Linked DNA regions of Homo sapiens: region 1 is linked to region 2. A link means that fine-mapping ties the variant in region 2 to the expression of a gene that starts in the linked region. Tissue or cell type: whole blood. Region 2 holds a variant in brackets; the other region holds the start of a gene. All regions are shown on one strand. Distances are between the middles of the regions.

What was found. PIP is the estimated chance that this variant, and not a neighbour inherited with it, causes the effect.
Region 1: it holds the start of TMEM245, and the variant in region 2 is fine-mapped to the expression of TMEM245 in whole blood (INTERVAL, PIP above 0.99).

The regions. Positions count from the first base shown.
Region 1 is chr9:109,118,579-109,121,218 of GRCh38, forward strand. It overlaps TMEM245 (transmembrane protein 245), which reads right to left and starts at 1,369. Exons shown (of 18, transcript NM_032012.4): 1 at 757-1,369. The coding sequence starts at 1,335. RefSeq lists silencers at 699-808, 1,159-1,328, 1,469-1,518 and an enhancer at 999-1,048.
Region 2 is chr9:109,141,397-109,143,896 of GRCh38, forward strand. It overlaps FRRS1L (ferric chelate reductase 1 like), which reads right to left. Exons shown (of 5, transcript NM_014334.4): 4 at 1-193. Among named protein-coding and RNA genes, the nearest start is that of TMEM245, 23 kb to the left of the region's middle. The variant C/T (reference allele first, on the strand shown) is at 1,082.

The DNA of each region.
Region 1 (2,640 bases), 23 kb before region 2:
GGTTAATCCAAGCATCACAAATCTACGTCTCTCCCCTTCACGCGGTCAGCTGCTTTACTCCAGGCGGGAGGAGGTGTGCTGTGGTACACCAGTCCCTGCACAACAAAAGCAGTTACCTAAAAGTAAAGCGTGGAGAGGAAGAAGCACAGGCAGCTCAGCACCCAGTGCCTTGCACAAATTATACAGGAATCACCTGAACTGAGAGGCAGCACCAGCCAGTGAAGCAAGCTTTGTTTTAGGACTTGTAAGAAATCTAAGACACCCAAACCCCTCTTTGTCCCTAAGTAGCCCTAGCCTGGTAAGAGGTCACCTTTCCTATCTGCAGGATGGCAAGTTGGCCTAGAATCTCTAAGGTCCCTTCCAGCTCTGACATTCAGATGCGCAGAACTGAGGGTGGCCGAAGCACCCCCGCCCTCTCCAACCAGAAGTAAAACCAAGCCCCACTGCCATGCTCTGAGGCCTCTCTCTGCAAAGCGAAATAACGATTCTCAATCCAGGGCACTGTCCCCCTAAGAGGGCCTATTAGGATTGAAACAAGGCGAAAAGCAGGGAGGCTGTTTCAAATCACGCCCGCCCCCTTTTTGGAAGAATGTCCGCCAAATTCCTGAGGTGTGAGAAGGAAAGCGGAGACGGACGGTCACTGCAGCACAGGTGTGGCCCCTCGTCGCCCCTGCACCGGGAGGAACAGCTGCAGGATTGCACCCCAGAGCGCCGGGACCACGGGCGGGGGACGGGGGCGGACTGCCGCTCACTCACCCACAGGCTGCTGAAGTAGTCCAGCCCGCGGCAGATGAGCGTGGCAGCGTGCACCAGCAGCACCTGCACGCCCAAGTAGCTGCCGAGGCAGTAGAGGCCGTACAGGAGCGGGCCGCCGGCGCCGAGCAGCAGGAGCAGGCGGCGGCGGCGCAGCGCCTGCTCGCCCAGGGCCTCGACGCCGTAGTCGACGAAGCAGAGCGGCAGGAGCAGCGCGGCCAGGACGATGGGCGTGTGCGCGCGGTGCAGGCGCTGCAGCCAGTGGCGGCCCAGGCGCGTCAGCGAGCTCTTGAAGGGGTGCAGAAAAGTGCCGCATAGCACGGCCCAGAGCAGCGGCCGCAGGAAGGCCTCCAGGATGAAGTAGACCAGCACCGCGGCGCCGCAGCACAGGCACACGAACAGCACGGCCCCGGTGTTGTAGAAGGCCTGCTTAATGGGCTTGTCGAAGCGCAGCGCCAGCGCCGCGGTCCGCGGGGTCTCCCCGCCACCGCCACTCGGCCCGACCGCGCGCGGGACCCGCGGCGCCGGCCCGGGAGAGCTCCGCAGGCTTGGCGCGTCCTTAGGGCCGCCGCCGTCGGCCATCGTTCCTCCGCCACAGCCGCCCCCGAGGGGCGGTAATGGGAGTCGGGCTAGAAACGCGGGCGGGAGGCAGGGCGGGAGGCGCGCGAGATTGTGGGAGTTGTAGTTCCCCGCTGGTTTACAGACCCACCAAGCGCTTGCAGGAAACTACAACTCCCGAAGGGGAAATGGGGAAAACGCCTCCGCCTCCTTGGTGTCCGCAAGGTCCTGCTAACAAGTTTGCAGGGTCTATATCTTCCTGGAGGGGGGGGGGGGGGGAAGCTCCTTTCACTCATTCGTTAATGTCAATTTCTCGCGAGGCGAGATCCCAAAAGGCGCCACATTCAGATATTAAAACCCAAGCTGCATACTAGAATACCGTGGGGGAGTACTTTTAAAGAACCAATGCCCCGATTCTGTTTTACTGATTTATTTAACAGATATTTTTAAAGTGTTTTCTTTGGTGTATCTGACAGGATTTTAAATAGAGATTACCATATAACAGGCCCTATTCTAAGTGGCTCACTCCTATTAACTCATTTAATCCTTAGAACAACCCTACAAAGAAGGTGTTATTATCCTCATTTTACCAACAGAAAAACTGAGACAGAGCCGTTAAGTACGCAGCCAGAGTCACACAGCTACCAAGTGGCACAGGCAAGATTCAAACTCAGGGATTCTGGCTCCAAAGGCTATACTTTTATCTACCATAGTATTTGGCCTGAGGAAAGAACTCTTGGCATTTTTCAAACGTTCCTCATAAGCCTGTAATTTGCAGCCGCTGTTGACAACTGTTTGTGCAGGTTTCGCTGTGGACGCAATCTAAACTCTTAAAAGAGTCGTAGATCAAAGTCTCAAACTGCCACTGTTTCTTTTTGAGACTTGATGTAATGTCAGTTAAGCCCCCAATCTCAAGTTTTCCTCTGTCACATGGCGATGATAATAATAATAGCTTTTGCTTTAGGGTTATTGTGTGGGGGAAGGGAAACTCTGGGGCGGTACAAGGTGCTTCTGTTCCCCTATTGGAAAAGTGCTGGGATCCAAGCCTGCTACCCATAAAATATCCCAATCAACATTTTGATTTAAAAAAAAAAAGAAAGCCTTGACTGAGTACTCAACATGTGATTGCTTCAAACCTTGCAAGTTGTCCCTTTCCTGTTTCAATAGTATTCCTATTAATTTCTACATAATTTTTGTTTCCCTTCTAAAGCAGACAAGACAGGTAACATAATCCACAGTTTGCAGATAAAGAAACTATTGCTTGATAGATTTGGAGACAAAGGGATTTAGTAAAGGAAGTAAAGGAAAAAGTAATTCCCTATCCATCTC
Region 2 (2,500 bases):
CAATTGTTTCATCTCTGGGAACATTCACAGGGCGTTTAAATCTGCAGGTGACGCGATTGTTCTCAAAAACTCCTTCTTCATCTCTGGCAGGGTTTCTCTGAATCTCCTTTGCCCACTGGCCTACATTATAGAAGTGCTGTATGCGGACCCTGCCATTGTCATCATGGACGCAGGCCATGACATCATCACCACCCTAACATGAGAAATGATTGAGAAAAAAAAAAGTCAAAGGTTCATCTTTTGCACACTGGTCACTAGAAATATACATTCCATCATCTCTGCAATTTGAAATCCCACCAAAAAAATTCTTTTAAGTGCCATTAAAAAGTCTCAACCAGGAGACCAAAGTTACCATCACAATAAGTGACATTCAGTGCCTCCTGACTGATGTTTGGAGAAGACATTACCACCTATGTGGTAATCCTGCCCAAAACACAAACCAACCTAATCAAGAAAAAACAATCAGACAAACTCAAACTGAAGGTCATTCTACAAAAAAAATTAAAAAAATACCTAGCCTATAATCTTCAAGGAGTCAGTGTCATAAAAGACCAAAAAAAGAAAAAAAAAAAAAAGGCTAAGAAACTATTTCAAAATATACATGACAACAAAATGCAGTTCTAGGTGTTCCTACATAGAAATTTGGGCTATAAACCCAAAATTTCCCTAAGGACAGTATTGGGACAAGTAGCAACATATGAAAACAAACAATATATTTAATAATACCATCATATCAATGTTAAACTTCCTGAATTTAATAAACTATATAATAAAAGAGAACATTCTTGATTTTAGGAGATAACCTACTTAAGTATTTAGGGTTAAAGGATTATGATATTTGCTATTTAAATGCCAAAATTCCAGAAAATAACAATCAAAAAAATAATAATCAGTAGTAGTAGCAGTAGCAGTAGCAGTAGCAGCAAGCAGTACAGAGAATAAAGCATGTGTGGCTAATGTCATTATTTATGAAAAAGTTCTGGAACTAGGGAGTAGTGATGGTTGCAGAACACTGAATGTGGTTGATACCACTGCATTGACACTTTAAAATCATAAATTTTGGTGCTACTGCACTCCAGCC[C/T]GGATGACAGAGTGAGACCCTTTCTCAAAAAAATAAAATAAAATGGTCAATTCTGGCCAGGTGTGGTGACTAGTGCCTGTCATCCCAACAATGTGGGAAGTCAAGACAGGAGGATCATTTGAGCCCAGAAGTTCAAGACCAGTCTAGGCAATACAGTGAGACACTATCTCTACAAAAAATTAAAAAATTAGCTGGGCATGGGGCTCATGCCTGTAGTCCTAGCTACTCAGGAGGCTGAGGTAGGAGGATCGCTGGGGAGGTTGAGGCTGCAGTGAGTCTTGTTTGTGCCACTGCACTGCAGCTTGGGCAATAGGGTGAGACCCTGTCTCAAAAAATAAAAATAAAAAAAAAAATACACAACAACAAAAAATAAAATGGTTAATTTTGTTATGTGCGTTTTACCACAATAAAAAAGTTATTATTTTGTTAATCTAAGTAGCTGTAGTCCCAGCTACTTGGGAGCCTGAGGTGGGAGGGTCACTTAAACCTTTACTATCCTTCCTGCTTGCCTACAGTTTACATTTTTTTCAAAACAAGTTTAAAAAAGTTAAAAGAGTTTGGTCGGGTGTGATGGCTCACGCCTATAATCCCAGCACTGTGGAAAGCTGAGGCAGACCACTTGAGGTCAGGAGTTCAAGACCAGCCTGGCCAACATGGTGAAACCTCGTCTCTACTTAAAATACAAAAATTAGCTAGGTGTGGTGGCAGGTGCCTGTAATCCCAGCTACTTGGGAGGCTGAGGCAGGAGAGTCGCTTGAACCTGAGAGGTGGAGGCTGCAGTGAGCCGAAATAGTGCCACTGAACTCCAAGCCTGGGCAATACAGTAAGACTCCATCACAAAAAAATAAAAAGTTACAAAAAAAAGTGTTAATCAGTTGTAATGCATGTACCATCCTGTGCAGGATGTTGATAATGGGGGAGGCTCCCCAGGGGGTATATGGGAAATCTGTACCTTCGGCTCCATTTCACTGTGAACCTAAAACTGCTGTAAAACGTAAAGTCTAATTAAAACACACACACACGCACACAATAATGCACCTTTTTTTTTTTTTTTTCCCCGACAGAGTCTCACTGTTGCTCAGGCTGGAGTGCAGTGGCGCGATCTCGGCTCACTGCAACCTCCGCCTCTCGGGTTCAAGCAATTCTCCTGCCTCAGCCTCCCGAGTGGCTGGGACTACAGGCACCCGCCACCATGCCCAGCTAATTTTTGTATTTTTAGTAGAGACAGGGCTTCACTATGTTGGCCAGGCTGGTCTCAAACTCCTGACCTCAGGGGATCCGCCTGCCTCGGCCTCCCAAAGTTCTGGGATTGTGAGCCACTGCGCCCGGCTAATAATGTACCATTTTTAAAAAGTTAAACGCTTTTAAAAAGGGGTTCCATTTTGTTTTTCCTATACATTAGGTTCTCAAAAAAAATTA